Linked DNA regions of Homo sapiens. The protein of the gene in region 2 interacts with the protein of the main gene of each other region in a pairwise test. Each region holds a gene or a part of one and is shown on either strand. Other genes may lie near its edges.

Region 1 (11,060 bases), on a different chromosome or scaffold from region 2:
AGTCATGTCAGAAACCCGAGATTCATCCTTGACACTTCCTCTCACCCCTTACACCCAAAACAATTCCTATGGATTTTACCTCCAAAAACATCTATCAAGTCTGACTGCTTCTCTTCATTACTAATGCCACCACACTCTCTAGCTTACACTATGGAAACAGCCTCCTAACTGGTCTCTCTGCTTCCATGCAAATGATGACACCCCAGCATAAAATCCTTCATACGATTCTCATTTTTGAAATCTCAAAATTCAGATTTAAGACAAGGCTTACAAGATCCTGCCAGATCTGCCCCCTAGCCTGTTTTTCTTACCTTGGTGCCCAAGACCTGTTTTAGGCACCCTGGTCTTCTATCACTTCAAAGAAAAGTGTCAAGCTACTTCCCAGCCTGGAGCCTTGTGATTCCCTTTACCTGGTAAATTCTTCTCTCTCCCATCTTAACCTGCCTCTTACTTAGCCCCTCTGGTCTCAATTTAAATGTCAATTCTTCAAAGAGGTCTTCCCTGACCACCCTCCTAATATACTTACTCTTCTCATAAACTCTTAGTACTTTTCCTCAAGAGCATTTATTAAAACTACAATTATCTGGGCCAGGCACGGTGGCTCACGCCTGTAATCCCAGCACTTTGGGAGGCCAAGGCGGGCAGATCACGAGGTCAAGAGATTGAGACCATCCTGGCTAACATGGTGAAATCCTGTCTTCACTAAAAACACAAAAAATTAGCCAGGCATGGTGGCAGGTGCCTGTAGTCCCAGCTACTCGGGAGGCTGAGACAGGAGAATGGTGTGAACCTGGAAGGCGGAGCTTGCAGTGAGCCAAGATGGCACCGCTGCACTCCAGCCTGGATGACAGAGCAAGACTCCATCTCAAAAAAACAAACAAAAAAAACTACAATTATCTATATCTTATCAGTTTAAAGTCTGTTTCCTATATTAAAATCCTTAAAGTATCATGACTGTACTGCTTTCTGCTATATCCCTAGAGCCTAGTGTAGTTCCTGGCACATAAAAAATAGTCATATTTTTATAGAATGAATGATTGAATTATAGGTATCTGTGTGACACTAGTACTGAATTGCACAGAAGCAAGAACCAAAGTAGGAGCAGCAACTTTATCTTTGTCGTTCTGTACTGATTCTGCACTTACAAAAGTGCCTGAGAAATAGAAGGCACTCAACAAATATTTGTTGAATAATGGATAAACAAGGGACAGTTTAATTTTAGGAAATTAGTACAATACAGTGTACCAATTGGTCAAATAAGGAAGAATAAAATCATCTCCATAAATACCAAAAAGACATTTGCTAAAATTCAGTATACATTCATAATTTTAAAAAACACAAACTTGAAATAAATGCAGTTTCTTAATTAAAAAAAAAAAAAACCCTGTCAAATCAACAAGCAATAATGTCATTAACAGTGAAATACCACTTGAGGCATTCTCACTGAAATCAGGAGCCAAACAAGAAACATCATCATTTACCACTGGTCCCAAAATTCTCACTGGTATAGTGTACAACGATAGTAGCTACTAGAAAAGAGACAAAATTATTATTTATAGATATTAAGGTTAGCTACCAAAATGAAAAAACAAAATGAAAAGCAAAAAAGATTAAAAATAAATTTCAATGAAGCAACTGGATAAAAGATAAATATCCACAACTCAACAGCTATTCTGTATACTAGTAATAAACAATTAGAAGGACATAGAAAAAACCTCCACTCGCAATAGCAGCAAATAAAATCCACCACGAAATACTTAACCTAAAAACTATATATATTAAGAAACTATAAAATTTTATTGAAAGATATAAAAGAGGACCTGAAAAAAACAGATATATCATGTTCCTTGACAATGACTTAATTTTATAAAGAAGTTAATTTAATAAAATTTGGCACAGACCTATGGTGAAATATTTGGTTTTTAAAAAGCATATTATAAAGTAATTGTAAATGACATAAGAAAATGGGACAATATAATGTTAAATGAAGACGCAGGATAAAAACTGCATATGAGGATTCCAATTATGTAAAAATATAAAGACTGGAAGGAAATACATAAAAATGTTAACCACAGTGGTGATCTCTAGATTGCAGGAAAATAATCTTAATTTGATACTTTAAGCTTTTCTGAATTAGTAAATTGTATATAATGAAGATGTATTACTTCTGTGAGAAAAAATTATTTACAAAGCATTTAACACCAATATCCAGACAATGGGAAAATGCATATTTACATTAAAATCAGGCCTGCCTAACAAACCCAAGATCTCCTTCCTGCAACACACCGTGTACCATAAAGGTTTATGTATGAAGCCCAAGGATCAAGATAAAATATGGTTTCAGTGCAAATACTACTAAATGGGTAGAAATAACAAAGGATTTTATTCAAGTGGTCACTTACCTATTTTCCCCCTATGAGCCAGTAACTAGAACTCTGGACATAGCAACACATGGCTAATGTAGAAGCGGCCACAACAAAACTAATGCCGAAAATTAGGTGCTTATAAGAGAAAAGGCACAGCTCAGTTTAACTTTTCAGCTTTGAATCAAATACTTCTCCACATCAAATACAGGACATTTCCATCTCTTATTTCAGCAGCAGTGTCAGTTGTTATGGAATTGCTTTTGTTCTAGTTTTGCTTTTTTAAGTGTTGTTTTTGCCTTCTCCTTTCTAAGCACAATAAGAAATAGACATTAAGTTATTTTCTCTCTTGGATACTTGCAGCTGGGGTTTACCTGGCCTTTCAGGCACAGCCTTTAAGACTTCTAAAATTCACGACCAAAGGGAAAAAAAAAAAAACTCAAGCCAGAAAAAAAGCCTACTTAAAGTGTTCAATACAAATTAATAGTGCCAAGGGCAGGGACTGTCTAAACAAAGTTATGTAAACCCCTAGTCCCAAGCTCAGTGCCAGTTCCCACTCATCCAAGGACTCAACCAAGAGATAAGGCAACCCATTTGATTTAGATTCATGTGGTCAGATACTCTTTTCCATAGCAACCTCACAGTAGCATCGAGTGCCCATTTTCTCCACTCCATAAAATAGTACAATTAGATGATAAACAAAGAACAGTTTGCACAGAAAGTCAAAGATGATTTGCTTCAAACAGATAAAAATGAGAGAATGGAAACATTGAAAAGAAGATCATGTTCCCTCTAATAAAGAGATGCCTTGAGGGGATGGGGCTTAAATAAAAGACTAAACTTTTTTTTTTAAAGGAATGCCTGGACAAGCAATTTAAGGGACTCTTCAGCCTTCCAAAAAAATACAACAAATAAAGGAAAATATTATGACTTAACACACAAAATTTAAAAAGAGGGTAGGGAAAAAACTTAAAATGTAATAGCAGTTAAAAAATGACCAAAAAAACTCCACCAATAAACCTTATGTGCTTTAAACATCAGCCCTTCCTACAATTATCAATTCTACAGCAATGATTCAACTGACAGCAACAATACTGGTAGCTCACGGAAGTTCAGCATTAGAAAGGTAGATCATTATTTTTTATTTTTATAAAGATTCTTACCAGCCACCTGCTTTTTCTTAGGCTTAGCCTACATGTTTTTGGGAAACAGTGCTAATTTGTATGGCTGCTACAGGAGACTACAGGAAAAGATGGTAAAATAAAAAATGTGCCCCAAAAGGTGTCTTAAATGTAGTGAGTGTTCAAGTAAATATTTGTTGAGTAAAAATCAAGCACATTCAGAAAGATACTCACTGTTAGAAGCTATGTCAATCAAAAGAGTTTCTTCTGCTTCTGAGAGGGGAAAAAAAAGAGAGTAGGATTAGGGAAGAGAAAACCACTCACTACAACCAAAAGAATACATGCCTAACTAAATAACTGCTTCTCTCAGTCACTACTCCTAGGTCTTAGAACATATTTTTTTAAATCCCTTTTCGTTTAATATTTTTTAAAGGGATTTTTTATAGCACTGGGTTCTAAAGACTATGAGCAAATCAACTAAAATAAAAATGAACTGAAGAAGTAACCAAATGGAACTCCTCAAAGCAAATCAACGAATGAGAAATTAATAGTACAGAACATAACAACATGTTAATTCAGCGAAAGCAAGTTTAATTCCCCTTAACTGTAACATAATGATTTAACTCTGGGTCCTTTAGATACTTCTTTAGATAACAGAAGGCAAAGGAAGTGACCCTGAAAGCCCAGAGGTGAATTACTTTCTTAACTCAGATCTATTCTCTGAAAATTTCCCAGTGATCTCATCACCTCTGCCCCTGCCCCACACATGGGGGCAGAGTATACCTTCAGGTTACAACTACTACCTGTGGGCCCAAGGCCCTCCGTACCAAACAGGGTGCAAAGCAGTCTGCAAGTTTGGATTTCTCTTATCTCTCAATGGTTCTCCTGGACTTCTTCCTTTACAACAAGTGTCTAGACCCAACCTATCTCTTCCCCTCTGATTTCTCTGGATTTGACCAAGTGCACCTGCCAGACCCTCCTGGCTAATTGAACTCTGGGTACTGACTCCTTGGGATTAGCCTGGATCTACCTTGGTCAAATGGAGTAGTCTCACCTTTTTCACCTCCCTCCCAAGACTGAATTGTTTATTTGGCTCCATTACTCAGGTACAACAGAAGCAACTGGCAAGGAACTAACTCCTTTAACACTAAAAAGTAGTCTCGATATTATTATTAGGATGATTAAACAAGGGGAATTAGGGCATCAAGACATAGATATTGTATGCTTACTACTGTTCTTCATTAACTTTTAGTTCTGTAAAACCTGAGTGTTTACAGATGGTTTTCTTTTTCTTTTTTTTTTTTTTTTTTTGAGACGGAGTCTTGCTCTGTCACCCAGGCTGGAGTGCAGTGGCACGATCTCGGCTCACTGCAAGCTCCGCCTCCCAGGTTCACACCATTCTCCTGCCTCAGCCTCCCGAGTAGTTGGGACTACAGGCACCCGCCACCATGCCCGGCTAATTTTTTGTATTTTTAGTAGAGACGGGGTTTCATCGTGTTAGCCAGGATGGTCTCAATCTCCTGACCTTGTGATCTGCCCACCTTGGCCTCCCAAAGTGCTGGGATTACAGGCCTGAGCCACCGCGCCCAGCCGGTTTTCTTTTTCTTTAGAGATGGCCTCACTCTCTCACCCAGGTTAGCATGCAGTGGCACAATCACAGCTCACTGCAGCCTCGAACTGCTGGGCTCAAGCAACCCTCCTGCTTCAGCCTCCCAAGTAGCTGGGACTACATGTATCTGCCACCACGTCTGGCAAATGTTGTTTTTTTAATTTTATTTTTGTACAGATGGGGTCTCGCAATGTTGCCCAGGCTGGTCTTGAACCCCTGGGCTCAAGCAATCCTCCTGCCTCAGCTTCCCAAAATGTTGGGATTACAGGTGCAAGCCATCGCGCCTGGCCACAGTTTACAAAATAGATGCAGGGGTCAGGAAATAGAAAGGAGATGAAAATCAAAAGTAAGTCTTCCTTTAGTCATGGGGAACTACGTTACATGTGTGCACATATTTTCCCAGGTTCTAAGAAGCAGCACTACGATCTAACAATCAGCAATTGATTTCTTATTAAAAATACTAAGAGAAACAGGGTAAAAGAGATCCTAGAGGTAGAGTAAAAAGGTACAAAGCTAATAGGATATTAATTTAAAGTCATGTTCTTTGGCTCTTCCCCTCTGTGAAGGCCTACACCTTGAAAAGTGAGGTGGCCACAGCAACTTACTATGGAACGTGGCTACCTTGTTTAGTATGTCTCTCTCACATAGGGCAGGCTAAATAGCTATCACTTCATTCTTCCATACAAATATGGACACTATTCATTGAAGTTATTTTTAATTCTTAACACATGCATTCTTAAAAAGTCATATCCACTAGCTTAGTATTTTCACTTATAGGAATACATCCTGAGGAAATAAGAGATGTGCAGGTATATTTAGGTGCAGAGATGTTCATCATATTACTATTGATACTAGTGAAAAATAACCCAAATGTCAACATAGGGGAATAATTACATTATGGACCATTCATAAACTGGTATGGTATATAGCCATTAATGGCATGGAAAAGTGCTCATAATACAATAGCATGTAGAAGAGACAAAAAATTGTATAAGATGAGTATCACTCACCCTGCAATGTATGTGTAGAAAAAAGGAAAATGCTAGGTGTTTATCTCTGAAAGGATGGGAATTTAAGTGACCTATTTTCTTTACACTTTTCTGTTCTTTCCAAATGTATTACATTATGTACATGTCACTTAGTGATTAAAAAAAAAGTTCAATGTAGTTTAAGAAATAATCCATGCAAGGTAAGATTTAAGTTTTCCAAGAAAGGCCAGGCATGCTGGCTCACACCTGTAATCCCAGCACTTTTGGAGGCCGAGACAGGCAGATTGCTTGAACTCAGGAGTTTGAGACCAGCCTGGGCAACATGGCGAAACCCCGTCACTACAAAAATTACAAAAAAAATTAGCTGGGGGGTGGTGCACCTGCAGTCCCAGCTACTTGGGAGGCTGAAGTGGGAGGATCACTTGAGCCTGGGAAATGACCTTGTCTTGAAAAAACAAGTTTTCCAAGAAGCTACAATTGATACAGAATGCTTCTGCTAGATAAAGCCACTGGTCCTAGTGAAAACAGAATGCATTTGTTCTCTAGTATCAATTTCCTTTCTAGAGCAATGTGAGATGACAGAAGCAACACCTCCTACACAAACCTCCCAATTTTTAAGTTTCATTGTAGCAGATGAAACAACAGATTTTCTATGCTCCGTCCCCAAATTTGAGGGCAGGAGGCCAAATATTTCCTCCCCAGAGTCAATTTTCTTATGATTCACCAATGTCAAGGTTTGAGAATCAGCACAATTGAGTGTAAGATATTACAGTCTGGCAAGGCATGTTGCCAAATGTCTTAATTTCAAATAGCATGTGGAGAAAGTGCTGAATGTGTGTGAATCCAAGTGACCTTGGTACCTTATGAGCACTGTGTCCGTTAAGCCCAAGAATGTTATTTAAATCCACATATAGGTCAGTCAGCATAAAAAACTACCTACACAGGTAACAATCTACATACATCTCTAACCCAAGCCAAGGAAACAGGTGAGACTATAGACACACATATACAAATATATTTCGATATAACCCTTCAGCATTCTTAGAGAAAGTATCATCTCCTCAATGTTATCTTTTTATGCAAAGAGTAATACATTTCATTTTACATGCACTGACAAATTTAAATATGTATGGTATTACATAATGCAGTAATGACCGAGAAAAAACATTATAAAACTAGCTAAGGAATTAAAGCTAGTACCTTGAACACATCTGAAGTGGCTATTTATAGGAATGATATCTTGAACATGCTGTTCCTTCTCATGCAACTGGATTATTAACCTAGGAAACAGAAGAACGCATCAAAGAACAGCCACTGAAAAACTCATTTAGCAAAAAAATACTTCACTGTCCTGTTATACAAATCTAGTCTGTATTTACTAGACTTGCTGCATCTAGTTCCCTGGATCTGAGCATCATGACAGCTAGATATTGCTCTAGGCCTAAAAGGATGCTAGTGGTGATGAACATCTGATTACCCACACTGTTCTCTAGGCCATATATCCTAAAAACAGTGTACAAGCTTAAGAGCATGAATTACAGAGTATATAGCTTCAGAGTATGCATACCAGAGTGAAGAACTGACAGCTAGATGTGAAGTCCATGAGTGCAGGGACCACAGCTATCTTTACACCACGGAATTTCTAGTACCTAGCACAAAGCCTGGCACACAGGAGTTGCTCGTGTGTGTGGAATCAATGAATTAGAAAATTCATAAATTAACCTTCCAATTATATTCCCATGGCTTTTTACCAAAGAATGGATCTGTCTCTTCAAACAAGCATTCAGGTTCATGGAGGAGTAAGAGGGGGTGCTCAGCCAGCTGGATTGGTCAAAATATCAGTGACCAACAAGGTGGCAGATATCACAACTGGATTGCCTTCAAATCCCTTGTTTCTTCTCTGGTTTCCAAGTTTACGCTGGTATTTCTACATAAACATGAGTAAACCTGACTCCCCAGATGAAATCCATACTTCTAAATCCATACGTACTCCTGAAATATTAATTTTTCATTTATTATTTATCCTTAGTGGTCCAGAATCAAGGTACGACCTACTGGTAAACAGCCATTCTGAACGTCAACTAGCATTCTCAAAGTCAAGCACTCTTCAAGTATTGTTTTTAGTTTTTTGTCAGGAACACTCTGTTTCTTTCCGAGTTTCATCTCAAATATCACCTCCTCCATGAAACTGTCCTCAGTACCCCCAAGCAGAACCAGCAGCCTTATCGCCTTTGTTTGCCCCTCTAATAGAACACTTACACACTCCATTATGGTTATATTTATTTCCCCTCACTGATTTCAGCTCCTTGAAAGCAAAGACCAGATCATATTCAGTTTTGTCTGCAGCCTAATAGATGCTCAACAAATACTGGCTGAATAAATTAACTAGCTTAATTAAGCTATAAGCAGCGGTGAATTTTTCAATGAAACTGTCCAACTTCTGACATTAAAATGTCATTGTTTTGAAGGGTTTGATTTCTATTTTGTTGTCTTTTGGGGGTGCTTGTTGCTTTTGCTTTTTGCATTTTCAAATGTGTTAACTTTGAAGAGGATAACCTGGGATAGGATAAGTAATTACTTAGATAGAACTAAGGGAAATAAAAGTATTAATGCTGTTTTTCTGCTGTGATCCTTCTTGCCTAATTTGCAGGGGTTTGTACTCTAAGGTGATTACAGGAATATGGGGCAGGCCCCTTTCCATCTGGAAAGTTCATGAGTTGAGTGGAGAGTCCTATAAACCCAGATGGAAACCAGAAACCAGATAAAAGGCTGAGAAATCAAGGGTTAAGGAGGAAGAGCTTACTTTGAGGAAGATAAACACAAACCACTAAAATCTCAAAATACATAAACAAGAAATGGTGTTGAACATTAGCATTAAAGCTTCATCTGGACAGTACTGTTAAAAACTATTACAAAACAAATAAACTGAGAATTTAAGTGAATTTCACCAACATTTATTGAGTATTTACTACGTGTTACCCACTAAATTACAATAAAAGAGTAGGGCTAAGAATAAGCATAAAAATTCTGAGTGTAATTATTCATTTCAGAATATAAAGATTAGAAATAATTGGTATACAGCAAAACAATGGAATTCAGAATTTGGTAGTTGTCAAACAGAAAAGAGTGACAAATCCTGAATGCCAACTCTGCCTTATCCCTAGGAAACACTTTGATTTGTTCAAGGAAGGTTAAAGGTCAAACAGGTTTTGTCATAATCTATTATCCTTGAAAAATATGAATCTTAAGTGTTTGATTCCCTGTTTCCAAAAAAACCCTGATTTTTAATTGTAATTTTGGTCAAGCAAATTTCCTATGGTTGACAGTAGGAACCACAGACCTAAAGATTTAAGTCAGGCTTCAAGTTCTAGGATAAAAAAGCCAAAAGTAAAAAGTTCTGGACACTCGAGTCAGAAAAGACACCAGAGAGACAAGAATATGAGGATTACAGATGGTATTATGGTATTAGGTGTCTCCAGCAAATGCTTTCAAGAGAAACTTCTCAGTGTAATTCTGAGACATGTTACATAGGATCAGATCTCAGGTATTCTACTCCCTAATTGCAAACAAGTGACTTAACCTGTCTGTGCTTCAATTTCTGTATCTATAAAAGGGGGATGATGATATTACTATCTTATAGTAACCCTCACATGTGGATTAAATGAACTAACTAATGAAAAGGGCTTAGAACAGTACCTGGCACATAAGCAGCCATTGAATGTTAGTTATATAGCAACAACTATATTAGTTGTTAGTTATATGTTAGTTTATATATAAACTATAGTTTATATGTATTTAAAACTATAGTTTATATATATTTAAAACTATTTACATAGTTTATATATAAACTGCTAATATAGCAACAACTATATTAGTTGTTAGTTATATAGTTGTTATATAGTGTTACCTATATATTAATGTTAGTTATATAGCAGCCCCATACCCCCACATATACCCCCAACTATACCCCCATAACTTACACAGAATTGGAACACACGACTTCCTTATTAGCTCAACAGAGTTCCAAATCTACTAATCCGAGGGACTAGATTCTGGGCTGTGGTCATCTCAACAATGTAGCTACTCTATTCAATCTTCATGATTTTGTTTTTACATTAGAGGAAACCAAGGCACACAAGTTTTACTGGTTTGCCCAAGGGTCACCTCTCTGTAACCCACTCTAGCCTTTGGAAATGTTAGTGGTGTTCCACTTTTCTGCTGAATTTTGTTTTATTAAATTCTGAATTTAGTTTAGTTTCATTAAACTAGTCTTCCAGGGTTTGATGAAATCCGGGTTTGATGAACTTCCCAGTAGAGCTGACTAAGCAGGACCTATGAAAGAGCTACTTCACAGAATTAGCTGACATCCAGTTAGAGTGGCACCAATAGTCTCAGAGAAGAGCAGGTTGGGCCAGTGGGAATTTCTTCCGTGTAAATCTGACAGCATAGATACAGAGGATCTAAAAGTGGGGACTGAGAAAATTGGTTTTAGGCAGAAGCCAATGTTGGGAGATGGCAAGATTTAAGTGAACAATTTTTAAACTGGGAAGGAATATGATGTCAAGAAGCCAATGAATATCCAAGTGAGGTGTCTTGGGCACACAGGGATAGGGGCCTATGATACGTAATGGTCACCATGGATATTTTTGAGATAAGATATTAGTGACAATAGAGTGAGGTTAGCAGCTATGGTGATAGCTTATCAAAATAATCTTTTGATCAATCAGTCAACAGTATTTACGGAGCTCCTATGGCAGAGAGGAAGGTGACACACTGATAAAATACTGTCATTTCTATCTCTACACATTTCATTACCTTTTCTTTCTAACAGTAAAGTCAGTAAGTGAGGCAGTTTCTGGCCTACACTAAACCATTACTGAATTAATGAATATGCCTTCAACCCAGTGGGATAAGGGGACGGGGAGACTGGAGAAACCAGCTGAATAGGGTTAAGACAAGTCTGTAACGTTAACAATGA
Region 2 (17,110 bases):
ACTTTGGGCTCCGTTTTCCCTCATATTCCTCCTGAAGACTCTGTCCTGTCACGGGATTTCAGAGATTTACATCCCTGCTCTTATACTCTCTAGCTATGTGGCTTTGGCAAGTTTCATAACCTCAGTGAGCCTGTTTCCACATCTGTAAAACGGGACCAGCATCTGCCTTGAGAAGTGAGAACGTGCCTGGCAGGGCACCAGCCATGTGGGACCACACACTAGTCCCTGCCCTTGCACAGCCTGCTCTGGGCTCTGCCAGGGAAATCAATCAAGGATTTTGATGGGGAAAAAAAATGACACAATCAGCCATTACTTGACAAAATTTTACTTTAGCCCTTGCATCTCCCTGCCAGGCTGCCGGACAGCTCCCCCGACACCCAACCCAGGAGGCAGCCTGATCCCACCTTGTGCTTTGGTAGGGGACATCCCTCACCCCTCTCTCCCAGGAGACCAGGGCCAACGTACCTTGAGAGTCTGTAAACCTACGCCAGGACTGGGGTTAACACCCCAGCCCACCAGCTGAGTCTGCCAGGACACGGGGCTCTGGGAAGCTCTGAACCCCTCCCATGCCCCAGATCCTGTGCCACCCACACCCACACCACTCAGGACTCTGGAAGGAGGTGAGCGGGGACCATACCAAGACCCCAGAGGTGCCTGTGGAGAGCAGGGCTTGCTGGGGGGAAGACAATGAAGCAGCCAAGGATCCCTCTCGAGGGGCTCTGTCTCTGGCTGTGCTTCTCCAGCCCAAGCTGCCCCTCTCCCCGGGGGCAGTGACAACTGTTCCCCCAGAGCAAGTCCAGAGTCACAGACCGTATCCCCTCCCACCAGCAAACAGGAAACTAAAGCAGTGAAAACATCAAGCTTTGTTGCCAGAGAAAAAAAAATGAACCCTAAGTATTTAAAATTCAGACGGAAGTCCCAGCCCACCGGGCCAGCCGTGAGCTGCAGAGGCCTTGATTGCAGACACACACCCCTCCATATTTCCCCAAGCTCAAGGGTCTCCAGAGACAGAAGGAAGGGGTTTTGGGCTGAGTCTGTCACCAAGAGGCAGCGTTTGGGAAAATCAAGGTCAGGGTGGAGGTGTCCTCAGGGGGCCACCGGTGTGGGGCACTGAGGACTGTAAACATGACCCAGGGTGAGGGCCAGGAGGTGTCCCAGCCCCGAGGTTCTCCCTGGATGAAAAATGGGCACTGTGGTGAGAAGAAAGGGGACCGGCGGTCAGCCCCGAAGCCAAGCAAGACCTGGTCCCCACCAGGAGTATGGGGGTGGGGGCTGAGCTCAGGAGGGGACATGTTAGAGGGGGCTGCCTGGAGCTGAAGAGGGGCTCTGGAAGCCACACTCGGTGTGCGGCTTTTTCTCCGCCACTAGGTCAGCACCTGGGCCTTCCTAGGCGGTGAGTCAGCTGGTGGCCTCCCCTCCCTGGGGGAACCTGCTAGAAGGTCACCTCGGGCCATGGCTACCCAGCCCAGGAAGGGAGGTCAGGCAAGCTCCCAAGGGGCCCCAGGCCTAGGGGCCAAGACTGAAGGATGCAGTCAAGGAGTGTCTGGAGAGCCCTGTGAGAGCCACCACGGAGACACAGACAGGGCCCGCGGCCAGAGAGCCACTGCCACCAGGAGCACCACCATGAGGCCTGGCAGGGGACTTTTGGCAGAGTCCTGCCTCAGCCAGCCCAGGCCAGGAGCCCCGAGGACCAGGCCACCTCACCCTTCCGGTCCTGCACTAACACCTGCACCTGTGTCCCCAGTCACTACCCTCCCAGCCACCGTCCTGCTCCTGGAGGCAGGCAGGCACAGAGCCAGGCCAGCTCCTCTGGCAGGTCCCGGAGCAAGGCCAGGCCCAGGTGTGGCTGCCATGACCGATCCTCCCTCTGTCCACCCTGAAGGCCTGGTCAGGAGCTGCACTAACTGTGCATTTGCTTTTCAGGCCACAGATCGCCCTCAGTCCCAGTGACCCTCTGAGCTGCAGGCCCGGCAATGCCTGTTGCCAGCACAGGCCTCTGCCCGGCAGCTCAGGCCAGCCTGGGGCCGGAGTTCTCAGGAAACCTCCCCCTCAGGCCCTGGATTCTCCTTAGTGTTGCACGTGACGTTCCCCTCAAGGGTAGGCCTTCTGGGTCACATGGTCCTAAAGGCCCACTCAGAATCCAGCACCTTCTCAGAGCCTGCATCCCCCAAAACCAGGCCACTCAGGGCCTGGGGGCCAGCCTTGCCCATGATTTCCCTCAGGATCTGCTCCCCCAGTCTCTCCAGGACCCGGCCTGTCCCAGAGGGCATAGAGCTTGTGTCCCCCTAAAACAGGCGCCCTGGTGGCCTCAGGGCTGGACCCGGCTGCTGAGCCACTGGCCACGCAGGGCCCGGATCTCCTGGCCATAGCACTCGTGCAGCCGGGCGAAGGGGGCCATGTCCAGGGGCCCGTGGGGTGCCGAGGCCCGGCGGCGAGGCGGTGGTGGAGGGGGCTCGGGTCCAGGCCTGAAGGTGGCCTCAGTGCTCCAGACAGCGCAGCCATTCTCCTTGGGCGGGAGGGCACTGGGCCGGCGGGGCAGGGGCAGGGCTGGGACCGGGGCTGGGGCAGAAGGCAGGGATGGGACTGGGGCCAGGGCAGAGGGCAGGGACGGGGGCAAGGGCAGGGACTGGGGCTGGGGCTGGGGCAGGGCCATGCCACCCCCGCCACGTACAGCCGCCAGCTGCTGCTCCAGCTCGCGCACCACCAGCCGCAGGTAGTCGAAGCTGGCACGCGACAGGGCCTTGACCCAGCCCTCCATGGCATCCTGACTCTCAGCGGCCAGCACGTAGGTGCGCGCCCGGGTCCCCGCAAAGCGCACAGCGAAGGCGAACTCCTCGGCGGCCTCCACCAGCTCCACAGTGCAGCCCTCCAGGATGATGACGCCCACGGGCTCACGGCTGGCAGCGTCCTCGAAGTAGAAGAGCATGTTCCCGCGCAGCACGAACCAGCGCCGGTGGTAGGCCGCGTGCCGCCCACCCTTCTTGTACAGGAAGCCTGCATTGTCCACCGGGGCGTCACAGGTGGCGTAGAAGGCCAGGCTGCGCTCGTTCAGCTTCATGGTGGCAATCGCGGGGCCTGGAGGGGAGCCTGGGGCCTGGACCCCATAGAAGGGCTGTTATGCACAAGGCCACTGACGCTAGGTCACCCAGTGCCCCAAGGGGACCTTGCAGCCACTCTACATCCCCGTTTCACAGATGAGGAAACTGACGCTCATAGGGTGGAAGCAGCTGGCCTATGCGCCCACAACTCCTAAGAAGCAGAGACAGGACTGGAACCTGGGTCTCACGGGCCTCCCCAGACAGCCTCATAACCTCCTACCCTCCTGTATCCCTGAAATAATGTTGTGAGTTCCTGCTGCATGCCAGACATTTCAGAGGAATGAACTCACTTTATCTCACAATAGACCTTAGGTCACAGGGACTGGCCTGGCACCAGTGCAACAGATGAGGAAACAGAGGCACAGAGAGGTTAACTGCTTCCCTGGTGTCACAAAGCAGGTTGGGCAGGGCTGAAATCCAAACCCAGGCCTCATTTCAGGCGCTGCTGTTTCCATCATCCCAAGAACAAGACCAGCTGGCCTTCTGCAGTCCCTGCCAGGTCCCAGCCCTGACTTTGTGGTTCGACTTTGGTTTGTTCATCCATGAAATGGATGAGCAGAACCAACTTTGGAGAGTTGTAGAGATTGATTTCATTCATAAAATGTTTATTAAGCATCTACTGGGTGCCAGGCATTGTTCCAGGCCTAGGGATATAGCAATAACAAGATGGACAGGGTCGTCCAGCCTGGCCAACACAGTGAAACCCCTTCTCTACTAAAAATACAAAAAATAAGCCAGGCGTGGTGGCGGGCGCCTGTAATCCCAGCTACTCGGGAGGCTGAGGCAGGAGAATCACCTAAACCCAGGAGGCGGAGGTTGCAGTGAGCCGAGATTATGCCATTGCACTCCAGCCCGGGCAATAATGTGACACTCTGTCTCAAAAAAAAAAAAAAAGATGGACACGGTCCCTGCCCTCGTGGTGTTGAAATGCCACTGGCAAGTGAAAGGGAGCAGACAGTTAACAAACAGATAAGACGTCTGCCAGGTAGTCTCATGTTCTATGGAAAATAGTAAGACAGGGGCTGGGCACAGTGGCTCACGCCTGTAATCCCAGCACTTTGGAAGGCCAAGGCCAATCCTTCTCACCTGAGGTCAGGAGTTCGAGACCAGCCTGGCCAACATGGCAAAACCCCATCTCTACTAAAAAACAGCCAGGTGAGGTGGTGCACGCCCATAATCCCAGCTACTTGGGAGACTGAGGCAGAAGAATCGCTTGAACCCAAGAGGCGGAGGTTGCAGTGAGCCAAGACTGCGCCATTGCAGTCCAGCCTGGGCGACAGAGCAAGACTCCATCTCAAAAAAAAAAAAAAAATAGCCAGGCATGGTGGGGGGTGCCTATAATCCCAGGTACTTGGGAGGCTGAGGCAGGAGAAGTGCTTGAACCCAGGAGACAGAAGTTGCAGTCAGCCGAGATTGCACTACTACACTCCAGCCTGGGGACAGAGCCAGACTCCGTCTCAAAAAAAAAGAAAGAATTTGGGGAAAGATGCAGGCCCAGGGCTAGGCTGACTTACAGGAAGGAGGGGCAGGGGGTCGACCCGTGCCATTTAGCATAGAGGACTCTAACTCCATGCCATCGGCCACAGTGACCCCATCCACCTTCCCCCAAGGAGTATATGATGGGGCAACGCTGGCCAGGAAGGACTTGTCGGGAGGTGGCATCTGCGTCCCTGGCCTGGCCACCTTCCCTTGGGGTTTTCCATGGCCATTTTGAGAGCCTGCCTTATCTCCCACTGCAGAGCCTCAGCCTGCATAGGATGGTAGCTACATTTTTCAAGAAGCAAAGGATATAAAGTCCTGGTACGCAGTAGGCACTCAGTGTTCATTCCCCTGCCTGGGTGGTGTCTTTCTCAGAGCCTGGTGGAATGAGGTCAGGGTGGTGGCTCTCCTGGGAGCAGGTGACCGCAGTGAGGCCCTGCCAGACTACCTGTCCTAGGGTGGAGGGGGTTGTCCTTGCCACCTCCTGTCAGCCACATAGGCAGTCAGGGAAGGCTTCCTAGAAGACGGAACATGAGTTGTGACTTAGAAACTGAGATCAACCAACCCAAATGCCCATCAATGATAGACTGAATAAAGGAAATGTGGTACATACACACCATGGAAAACTATCCAGCCATAAAAAGGAATGAGATCATGTCCTTTGCGGGGAAATAGATGGAGCTGGAAGCCATCATCCTCAGCAAACTAACACAGGAACAGAAAACCAAATACCGCATGTTCTTACTCATAAGTGGGAGTTGAACAATGAGACACATGGACACAGGGAGGGGCAGAACACATATCGGGGCCTGTTGGGGGATCGGGGGTGAGGGGAGGGAACTTAGAGAACGGGTCAATGGTGCAGCAAGCCACCATGGCACACGTATACCTATGTGACAAGCCTGCATGTTCTGCACATGTATCATGGAACTTAAAATAAAAAAAGAAACTGAGGTCAGTTTGTCCTGACCTAGTGGGAGGCCAAGGCCAGAGCCCCCAAAGTCTCCAGGTGTTGAATCCCCACCCTGCCTCTCAGCTACAGCTGTCCCTCTCTAAGCCGCAGGGATTCACGCATTCCCCACACCACCACCCATCAACTCCCATGTGGATGCTGGCCCCGGTTCTCACAGGACCCTCCCGCCCTGCTTGCCCAGTTCCGCTCCTACCTCTCAGGCCACCACTTGCCTCCCTGCCCTCTGCTCAGCTCCAGCCTCAGCTCGCTCTTCTCTGGATTCAAATGTCAGCTCTGCAGCATCTGGGCTGGGGGACCCCAGGCAGGCTATTCATCTCTCTGGGCCTCTGTTTCTGCATCTGTAAAATGGGATCGTAACAGTGCCTAAGTCAGGGCTGTTGTGACAATGATACAGTGACTATATGGACTTTGCGGAGCATGGGGCCAGGCACACAGTGCCTGCTGAGCGCGGTTGCAGTTCACATTTTTCTTGGCTTTTCCCCAAACATCCCTGTGTTGTGCTTCCGATCTCAGCAAATGGCCCTTGGTTTCCCTCTCACCCCCGCATCTGATCGCACATCAAGTCCAGTTGATCCCCCTCTCCAGCGTCTTCCAAATCAGTTGCCTAATCTGTCCACTCCACCTCCCCATTCTAGGCCCCATCACCATTCACTGGGATGGCTGCTGTAGCCTCCTCATAAGTCTCCTTGCCCCTCCCTGTCCATGTTCCTCAAGGTAAGATCCAAGCCTCCTTCCTAAGCTCTTCTCCGAGCCACACTGAAATCCACTTCCCACAGATGGATCCTGTGAAAATTAAGTCCAATCACACTCCTCCTCTGCTCTAAACCCTCCCATGGCTCCCTACTTCTCTCAGCATAAAATTAAATCCTTAGGCAGGGTGCGGTGGCTCACACCTGTAATGCTGGCACTTTGGGAGGCTGAGGGGGTAGGATTGCTTGAGTTAGAGACCAGCCTGGACAACATAGCAAGACCCTATCTCTATAAAAAATAGAAAAAAAAATAGCTGGGCATGGTGATACAAGCCTCTAGTCCTAGCTATCTGGGAGGCTAACATGGAAGGACCCCTTGAACTTGGGGGGTGACATAGTGAGATTCTGTCTCAAAAAAAAAAAAAAAAAAATCCAAGCCTCCCTTGGCTTCCAAGTTCCCTTTCCCTACCTCTTTCCCCCTTGTTCACTCAGCTCCAGCCATCCTGGCCTCCTTTCTGTTCCTCAAATACACCAGACACATCCCCACCTCCAAGACTTGGTCCCGGCTGTCTGCCTGCAGGTCTTCACAAGGCCAGCTCCCCATCCTTTGGTCTCAGCCTAGCTGTCACCTCCTCAGAGAGGTGGTCCCTGGCCACCCTATGCACAAGAGGCCCCCCAGTCCCTCTCCTGTGCCTCCACCTGAAATTAATACCTGGGTCATTTCTGCCTGCAGGGGCGTTTGTGGTCTGAATTCTAGTGCCTGGCATGCAGTAGGTACTCACACAGCTGTTTGATTCATTCTGCAGTATCTTCTGAAACCTTTCAACAGCCCCAAGACAAGGGATCTCACCCCACATTCACAGATGTGGAAATGGACACAGGGAGATTCAATAAGTTGGCTAGAGGCATACAACTGTGCCCAGAATCACATGCTCCAGGCAAGCCACCCAAATAAAGGGGCTGATCTTGGGGTCTCTCCACCCCATCAAGGCCAAAGGAATAGCAACTTCCCTCCTGCTCAGCAACCCTCCTCCCCCGACTGCCTAGATAGAGGCCAAACTGGTTCAAGGTCACCAGCAGGCACAGGACCCAGCTCTGCCCATGACCCCTGCCTCCACCAGAACTGGGAAGACAGGAAGCTGCAGGGGCACAGGCGCCAGCCTTGCCTGGAGCGAAGGCCTGGCCCCTGCCTTATCTCCCCACACTGTTTTCCAAGAAGTTCAGAGTCCACTGTGGGCACTGCTGCTGATTCAACAGCCCATGGCCAGACAGGAAGCTGGAGGGAGCCTGGCCCAGCTCTGCTCCCAAGGCAAAGTTCCTGCCTCCGCAGGTCCAGGCTGGAGGACCTTGGACAAGTCGTTTCACCTTTCCAAGTCTCAGTGTCCTCATCTGTTAAATTGGGCTGTGTGGCGAGGGTTCATGAGCTAAAAGAAGGAAAACCCACTGGCAAACTATGGGAAATGGATTGCAAATATTAGCTGCTGTGAGTCGGAGTTTTTTCTCAGCCTCATCTGCAAAATGGTGACGTTAACTTCCATCCCTCTAAGGGCTGAGTGAATTGACTCCTGAAGAGTCATTTTGCAAAATACTTGGTGGGTAGTGAGCTTTCAGGGAAAGAGCTGTCAAAAAGGCAAATAATTCATCCAAGATCTCCAGGGGCACAGCTGGCCCCGGAACCCAGGTCTCCTGGGAGACTGAAGCATGGCATTTTGGCACTCACATCAACGAAAAGAAGCCAGTACCGCAGGTCCTGGGGTTGAATCCAGCTGCCCTCAGTGTCCCCCAGCAGCGGGCGTGGGGAAGAGGGTGTGGCAGGCACAGGCTGAAAAACATGTGTGCCAAGAACACTAAAGAGCAGCCTGGCCGTCACCGCCCCAGCAGGGACCCCAGAGACACGCCAGCACCGCCGTCCAGACACAGGCAGCCCCCTTGTCCACGGCAGGGGCTGCTGCTCCAGGTGTGGCCCTGCTCCCGGCTGCTCTCTGTCCCTTTGTGTGTTGTGCGTGGGAGCTCTCTTAAGTTCCTTAAAGGACAGCCAGAGCCCCAGATGGGTGATCAGCGGCAGAATGGGGGGCTTATCCGCAGTCCCCACCAGCGGCAGACGTCCCTATGGGCTGAGAGAGGGGAGGGTGGTCATTGGCCAAGTTCGCCTCGGCAGCTGGAGAAGTCACCACTGGTGCGGAGTCCCAGCGGGGAAGATCCCCGCAACGCGCTCTCCAGGTGGCCGGGGGACCCCGAGGCCCAGGGCGGCCCGACCCGGGTCCCATGTCCTCGTGCATGTCCCCCCGCCAGGCCCGCCTTACCTCGCAGCGCAGGCCTAGGGCGGCGACGGGACGGGAGGCGCGAGGTTGCGGGGTGGCCCGGCCATGGTTCGGGACTGGCCCGGTGGCGGCGACGGCGGCGGCAGCGCTTTGTCTCCTGGGCGGCCGGGCCGGCGCAGCCGCGGGAGAGCGCGGATCCGACGGAAGGAGGCGGGAGCAACCGGACAGTCCGCGACCCACGGGCGCGCCCCTTTAACCCTTCCCAGCCTGCTCGCGCCGGGCCCGCCCCCGCGTTCTTCCCACCTCCCGATTGGCAGGCCCCGAACCGGCACGCCCCCGTGAGCCCGCCCTCGAAATCACTCTTAAAGGGTCCGCTCCTGGCTCGCGACTCCCCAGTTCCCTAGCCCAGAAAAGCGGATTGGAGCCCGGGAAGCTCATTGCGATTCCAAAGGTAAGGACTGGCCCAGGTCGTGGATTAGCCTGCAAAAGCATTTGGGGGTCCTGGGCGGGCCATTCGCTGAAGTCCTAGGCTTAAGTCCGAACTCCCCCCAGGACGAGGCAGGAGGATTGCCTGAGCCTAGTAGTTCAAGACCAGCCTGGGCAGCAGAGGGAGACCACCATCTCTACAAATAATAAAAATATTTGCTAAACCTGGGTTGCCAGGTTTAGCAAATTTAATGCCCAGTTAAATTAGAAAAATAGCTCTAATTCCTGAAAAATGTGTGAGTGGCAGAAAAAACAGCTGAATCCAGGACATTTGCGTACAGCACTGTTCCATACGGACAGGGCGCCTCGCAAGCTTCCCCTGGCTCCAGGTGAAGAGAGGAAGTTCTGGAATTAGGCAGACTTGAGTTCGAGTCGCACTAGGCCACTGAACACTGTGTGAGCTTAGAGAAATCATTTCACTTCTCTAAGCCTCCGTTTCCTCATCCGGAAAATAAAGACCATCATGATATGTAAAGTGCACGGCACAACAGAAAGCTCTCAAGAAATAGGAATTGCTGTTGTTTTTGCCCTGCCCACCTCCTTGAACCCTTCCTTCCTGTTCCTGCCGCCTCTTCTCCACCACCCGCCACCTCCCAATCACTATTAAGTCCTGGCCTGAAAGCAGGAAGAACAGGACAGACCAGGGTCAGCTCTCCATTGTACAGCCTCTCACTAAGCGCCTACTGTGTGCCAGGCACTGTACCTGAACCAGGTAAGCAGGTGCAGCCAGGAATCAAGACAACACAAATGAGTTCTGGAAGTGATTCATGCTAGGACTGTACGCTAAGGCAATGGGGCAGAAAGCCTGGGAGTGCAGTTTTTTTGTTTTTGTTTTTTGTTTTTTGTGTTTTTTTGTCACCCAGGTTGGGGTGCAGTGGCACAATCACAGCTCATTGTAACCTGAACTCCTGGGTTCAACCGAGCCTCCCACCTCAGCCTCCCAAGTAGTTGGGACTACAGGTGTGTACCACCACACCCGGCTAATTTTTTTTAATTTTTTGTAGAGATCGGGGGGGTCTTGCTATCTTGCCCAAGCTGGAAGTGCAGCTTTTAGACAAGGTGGTCAGGGAAGGCCTCTCTGAGGACAGACCTGGAGGAATGAGGGAGGGAGCCATGTGGTTATCTGGGAGAAGGAGGTCCCAGGCAGAGGGAACAGCAAGTGCAAAAGCCCTGAAATGGGGCCATCCTGGGCATGTTTGAAGAACAACGAGGAGACCAGTGGAGCCAAGTGAGCAATGGGAAGAATAGTAGGAAAATAGGTCAGCTGGCTGGGCGCAGTGGCTCACGCCTATAATCCCAGCACTTTGGGAGGCCGAGGCAGGTAGATCACTTGAGGTCAGGAGTTCGAGACCAGCCTAGCCAACATGGTGAAACCCGGTCTCTACTAAAAATACAAAAAAAAAAAAAAAAAAAAATTAGCCAGGCATGGTGGTGTACACCTGTAATCCCAGTTACTTGGGAGGCTGAGACAGGAGAATCACTTGAACCCAGGAGGCAGAGGTTGCAATGAGCTGAGATTGCACCACTGCACTCCAGCCTGGGTGACAGAGCAAGACTCTGTCAAACAAAAAAAAAACAAAAACAAAAAAAAAAACACAATAGATCAGAGATTATTGGCAAAGCCAGAAAGCCAGGTGACCTAGGGGCTTAAGGACCAGAGGAAAGATTTTGCTTTTACTCTAAGAAGAATGAGGAGCCATGGGAGGGTTTTGAGCAGAGGAGGGACATGGTCTGTGTTAGATTTAACATGGTCCCTGACTGCTATGGGCAGGGAATGATAGTAGAAGCCAGGCGATCAGGGAGAACACTACTGCAGTAGTCCAAGCAAGTGATGGTGGTGGCTTAGAGTGGAGCAGTGGAGGTGGAGAGAAGTGGTTAAGTATAGATATATATTTAATGGATATATGTATTAGTCCGTTTTCACACTGCTGATAAAGACATACCCGAAACTGAGAACAAAAAGAGGTTTAATTGGACTTACAGTTCCACATGGCTGAGGAGGCCTTGGAATCATGGCGGGAGGTGAAAGACACTTCTTACATGGCAGTGGCAAGAGAAAGTGAGGAAGAAACAAAAGCGGAAACCCCTGATAAACCCTTCAGATCTCGTGAGACTTATTCACTATTATAAGAATAGCGTAGGAAAGACTGGCCCCCATGACTCAATGACCTCCTCTTGGGTCCCACTCACAACACGTGGGAATTCTGGGAGATACAAATCAAGTTCAGATTTTGGTGGGGACACAGCCAAACCATATCATTTTGCCCCGGCCCCTCCAAATCTCACGTCCTCACATTTCAAAACCAATCATGCCTTCCCAACAGTCCCCCAAAGTCTTAGCTAATTTCAGAATTAACCCAAAATTCCACAGTCCAAAGTCTTGTCTGAGACAAGGCAAGTCCCTTCTGCCTATGAGCCTGTAAAATCAAAAGCAAGCTAGTTACTTCCTAGATACAGTGGGGATGCAGGTATTGGGTAAATACAGCCGTTCCAAATGGGGGAAATTGGCCAAAACAAAGGGGTTACAGGGCCCATGCAAGTCTGAAATCCAGTGGGGCAGTCAAATTTTAAAGCTCCAAAATGATCTCCTTTGACTCCGGGTCTCACATCCAGGTCACGCTGATGCAAGAGATGGGTTCCCATGATCTTGGGCAGCTCCACTCCTGTGGCTTTGCAGGGTACAGGCTTCCTCCTGGCTGCTTTCACGGGCTGGTGGTGAGTATCTGTGGCTTTTCCAGGCACACAGTGCAAGCTGTCAGTGGATCTACCATTTCAGAGTCTGGAGGATGGTGGCCCTCTTCTCACAGCTCCACTAGGCAGTACCCCAGTAGGGACTCTGTGTGGGGGCTCTGAACCCCACATTTCCCTTCTGCACCACCCTAGCAGAGGTTCTCCATGAGGGCCCTGCCCCTGCAGCAAACTTTTGCCTGGGCATCCAGGCATTTCCAAACATCTTCTGAAATCTAGGCAGAGGTTCCCAAACCTGAATTCTTGACTTCTGTGCACCCACAGGCTCAACACCACATGGAAGCTGCCAAGGCTTGGGGCTTCCACCCTCTGAAACCACAGCCTGAGCTCTGTGTTGGTGCCTTTCAGCCATGGCTGGAGCAGCTGGGACACAGAACACCAACTCCCTAGGATGCACACAGCACAGGAACCCAGGGCCTGGCCCACAAAACCACTTTTTCCTCCTGGACCTCTGGACCTGTGATGGAAGGGGCTGCCAGGAAGTTCTCTGACATGGCCTGGAGACATTTCCTCCATGGTCTTGGGGATTAACATTAGGCTCCTTGCTACGTAATGCAAATTTCTGCAGCCGGCTTGAATTTCTCCCCAGAAAATGGGCTTTTCTTTCTATTACAATTTACTTCTTATTTTTTTCTTTTCTTTTCTTTTTTTTTTTTTTTTTTTTTTTTTGAGACAGAGTCTTGCTCTGTTGCCCAGGCTGGAGTGCAGTGGTGTGATCTCAGCTCACTGCAACCTCCGCCTCCTGGGTTCAAGCGGTTCTTCTGTCTCAGCCTCCTGAGTAGCTGGCACCAGGTGCACGCCATTGCACATGGCTAATTTTTTGTATTTTTGGTAGAGATAGGGTTTCACCATGTTGGTCAGGCTGGTCTTGAACTCCTGACCTCAGGTAATCTGCCCACCTTGGCTTCCCAAAGTGCTGAGATTACAGGCTTGAGCCACCGCTCCCAGCCTGCAAGTTACCTCTTGAATGCTTTGCTGCTTAGAAATTTCTTCTACCAGATACCCTAAATCATCTCTCTCAAGTTCAAAGTTCCACAGATCTCTAGGGCAGGGGCAAAATGCCGCCAGTCTCTTTGCTAAAACATAACAAGAGTCACCTCTGCTCCAGTTCCCAACAAGTTCCACATCTCCATCTGAGACCACCTCAGCCTGAATTTTATTGTCCATATCACTATCAGCATTTTGGCAAAGCCATTCAACAAGTCTCTAGGAAGCTTGAAACATTCCCACATTTTCCTGTCTTCTTCTGAGCCCTCCAAACTGTTCCAACCTCTGCCTGTTACAGTTTCAAAGTCACTTCCACATTTTTGCCTATCTTTTCAGCAACACTCCACTCCTGGTACCAATTTACTGTATTCATCCATTTTTGCACTGCTGACAATGACATACCCAAAACTGGGAACAAAAAGAGATTTTTTGGGTTTTTTTGTTTTTGTTTGAGATGGAGTCTTACTCTGTCACCCAGGCTGGAGTGCAGTGGTGCAGTCTCAGCTCACTGCAACCTCCGCCTCCTGGGTTCAAGCAATTTTCCTGCCTCAGCCCCCTGAGTAGCTGGGATTACAGCTGCCACCACGCCTGGCTAATTTTTTGTATTTTTAGTAGAGGTGGAGTTTCACCATGTTGGCCAGGCTGGTCTCGAACTCCTGACCTCTTTTTTTTTTTAAATACTTTAAGTTCTACAGTACATGTGCACAACGTGCAGGTTCGTTACATATGTATACATGTGCCATGTTGGTGTGCTGCACCCATTAACTCGTCATTTACATTAGGTACATCTCCTAATGCTATCCCTCCCCCCTCCCCCCACCCCACGACAGGCCCCGGTGTGTGATGTTCCCCATCCTGTGTCCAAGTGTCGAACTCCTGACCTCTTGATCTGCCCTCCTCAGCCTCCCAAAGTGCTGGGATTACAGGCGTGAGCCACTGCGCCCGGCCAAAAAGAGGTTTAATTGGATTTACAGTTCCACGTGGCTGCGGAGGCCTCAGAGTCATGGCGGGAGGTGAAAGGCACTTCCTACATGGTGGCGGCAGGAGAAAATGAGGAAGAAGCAAAAGCAGAAACCCCTGATAAACCCATCAGATCTCATGAAACTTATTCACTCTCATGAGAATTACACGGGAAAGACCAGCCCCCATGATTCGATGACCTCCCCCAGGGTCCCTCCCACAACACATGGGAATTCTGGGAGATACAATTCAAGTTGAGATTTCAGTGGGGACACAGCCAAACCACATTAATATATATTTAAGATATATGTAAAATTTGATGATAGGTTGCATGTGGGGAATGAGAGAGAGACAGAGAGAGAGGAAGGAAGAAAAGGAGTTAAGAATAACTCCAGGGGCCGGGCACAGTGGTTCACGCCTGTAATCCCAGTACTTTGGGAGGCCAAGGTGGGTGGATCACGAGGTCAGGAGTTTGAGATCAGCCTGGCCAAGATGGTGAAACCCCGTCTCTACTAAAAATACAAAAAAAATTAGCCAGGCGTGGTAGTGGGTGCCTGTAATCCCAGCTACTCGAGAGACTGAGGCAGAGAATTGCTTAAACCCGGGAGGCAGAGGATGCAGTGAGCTGAGGTCACCCCACTGCACTCCAGCCCGGGCGACAGAGCAAAACTCTGTCTCAAAAAACAAAAAAAAAGAAAAGAAGAAAAAGAACTCCAGGGCCAGGTATGCTGGCTTACATCTGTAATCCCCGCACTTTGGGAAGCCGAGGCAGGAGGATCACTTGAGCCTGGGAGTTTGAGACCAGCTTGGGCAACACAGGGAGACCCCATCTCTACAAATGATAAAAATATTACCCAGGGCTGGACACAGTGGCTCACACCAGCAATCCCAGAACTTTGGGAGGCCAAGGTGGGTGGAGACCTCGTCTCTACAAAAAATAAAAAATAAAAATAAAAAGGACTCTCAACTTTTGGACCTAAGTAATGGGAAAAATGGAGATTCGAAGGGAAAAATCCAGATTAGTCTTTTCATCAAATTGAGCTGGAATAACTGGATATTCATATAGAAAAAAACAGCCTTGATACTTACCTCATGCCATACATAAAAATTAACTCAAAATACATCAAACTCTTGCACATAAAAGCTAAACTCTAAAATCTCTAGAAGAAAATAGGGGCTGCCAGGCACAATGGCTCATGCCTGTAATCTCAGCACTTTGGGAGGCCAAACAAAGTGCGAGGATCGCCTGAGTTAGTGACCAGCCTGGGCAAAATAGTAAGAACCCATCTCTTAAAAAATTGTTTTTTAATTAGCTGGGTGTGGTGGCGCATGCCTGTAGTCCCAGCTACTCAGGAACCTGAGGCAGGAGGATCGCTTGAGCCCAGGAGGTCAAGGCCGCAGTGAACTAGGATCACGCCACTGCACCCCAGCCTGAACGACAGAGTGAGACCCTGTCTCCAAAAAATAAGTAAATAAGGTCGGGCACGATGGCTCACACCTGCAATCCCAGCATTTTGGGAGGCCGAGGCGGGCAGATCATGAGGTCAGGAGTTTGAGACCAGCCTGGCCAACAAGGTGAAACCTCATCTCTACTAAAGATACAAAAAATTGGGCCGGGCATGGTGGCTCATGCCTGTAATCCCAGCACTTTGGGAGGCCGAGGCGGGTGGATCACCTGAGGTCAGGAGTTCGAGACCAGCCTTACCAATATGGTGAAACCCTGGCTCTATTAAAAATAAAAATAATTAGCCGGGTGTGGTGGCGTGTGCCTGTAGTCCCAGCTACTTGGGAGGCTGAGGCAGGAGAATTGCTTGAACCCTGGAGGTGGAGGTTGCAGTAGCTGAGATTGCACCACTGCACTCCAGCCTGGACGACAGAGCGAGACTCTGTCTCAAAAAAAAAAAAAAAATACACAAAATTAGCCAGGCATGGTGGCACATGCCTGTAATCCCAGCTACTCGGGAGGCTGAGGCAGGAGAATCACTTGTACCCGGGAGGTGGAGGTTGCACCAAGCCAAGATCGCGCCATTGCACTCCAGCCTGGGCCACAGGGCAAGACTCTACCTCAAAAAAAAAAAAAAAGGAACTAAAAATAATAAAATAGAAAATCTTTACAACTTTAGGATAAAGATTTCTTAAGACTCAAAGAGCATAAACTAGAAAAAAATAAAAATTGGACTTCAGTAGGTTGGGGGGTTTTTTTTGTTTTGTTTTTTTGAGACAGGATTTTGCCCTGTTGTCCAGGCCGGAGTGCAATCTCAGCTCACTGCAACCTCCATCTCCTGGGTTCAAGCATTTCTTCTGCCTCAGCCTCCCAAGTAGCTGGGACTACAGGTGTGTGCCACCATGCCTGGCTAATTTTTGTGTTTTTAGTAGAGACAGAGTTTTGCCATGTTGGCCATGCTGGTCTCGAACTCCTGACCTCAGGTGATCTGCCGGCCTCACCCTCCCAAAGTGCTGGGGTTATAGGTGTGAGCCACTGCACCCGGCCCATATTGACTTTAAAAAAGATAAAGGTTGTTTTTAAAACCTGTTTAAAAAGAGAGAGAGAGGGAGGGAGGGAGGGACGGAGGGAGGAAGGAAAAGGGAAAGGAAAAGGAAAAGGAAAGGAAAGGAAAGATACCATCAGAGAAACAAAAAGATAAGCCACCAACTAACTGAGAAAAAAAATTTTCTTGATATATATATCTGACAGAATCTGAATGCCAGATCTATATAATGAAGTCTTACAACCCAATAATAAGATAAGCAACCCAATCTAAAGACAGGCAAAAGATGTGTGTGTGTGTGTGTTTGAGACAGGGTTTGGTCCTGTTGCCCAGGCTACAGTTCAATGGCATGATCTCCGCTCACGACAACCTCTGCTTCCCAGGCTCAAACCATCCTCCCATCTCAGCCTCCCAAGTAGCTGGGACTACAGGCGCGCGCCACCATGCCTGGCTAATTTTTTTTTTTTTTTTTTTTTTTTTGTATTTTTGGTAGAGATGGAGTTTCACCATGTTGCCCAGGCTGGTCTCGAACTCCTACACTCAAGCAATCCTCCCACCTGGGCCTCCTGAAGTGCTGGGATTACAGGCATGAGCCACCATGCCTGGCCCAGGCAAAAGATGTTAACAGATATTTTATAAAAAGCTGTAATATGGGCCAGGTGTGGTGGCTCACGCCTGTAATCCCAGCACTTTGGGAGGCCGACGTGGGTGGATCACAAGGTCAGGAGATTGAGAATATCCTGGCTAACCTGGTGAAAACCCGTCTCTACTAAAAATACAAAAAATTAGCTGGGCATGGTGGCGTGCGCCTGTAGTCCCAGCTACTTGGGAGGCTGAGGCAGGAGAATGGCGTGAACCCAGGAGGCAGAGCTTGCAGTGAGCCAAGATTGTGCCACTGCACTCCAGCCTGGGCGACACAGAGTGAGACTCTGTCTCAAAA

What was found.
Region 1: the proteins of PHETA1 (region 2) and OCRL interact in binary tests that used the Homo sapiens proteins (3 or more experiments, as listed by UniProt).

The regions. Positions count from the first base shown.
Region 1 is NC_000023.11:129,541,260-129,552,319, reverse strand, and holds part of OCRL (inositol polyphosphate 5-phosphatase OCRL), read right to left. Parts: intron 7,363-11,060; coding exon 7,283-7,362; intron 3,758-7,282; coding exon 3,719-3,757; intron 1-3,718. UniProt on the Homo sapiens protein: Catalyzes the hydrolysis of the 5-position phosphate of phosphatidylinositol 4,5-bisphosphate (PtdIns(4,5)P2) and phosphatidylinositol-3,4,5-bisphosphate (PtdIns(3,4,5)P3), with the greatest catalytic activity towards PtdIns(4,5)P2.
Region 2 is NC_000012.12:111,360,370-111,377,479, forward strand, and holds PHETA1 (sesquipedalian-1), read right to left. Parts: upstream 8,727-17,110; 5' UTR 8,543-8,726; intron 8,354-8,542; exon of another isoform or gene 7,960-8,353; intron 5,889-7,959; 5' UTR 5,744-5,888; intron 5,283-5,743; exon of another isoform or gene 5,198-5,282; coding exon of another isoform or gene 5,195-5,197; intron 5,188-5,194; exon of another isoform or gene 5,026-5,187; intron 3,095-5,025; coding exon of another isoform or gene 3,059-3,094; coding exon 2,309-3,058; 3' UTR 310-2,308; downstream 1-309. UniProt on the Homo sapiens protein: Plays a role in endocytic trafficking. Required for receptor recycling from endosomes, both to the trans-Golgi network and the plasma membrane.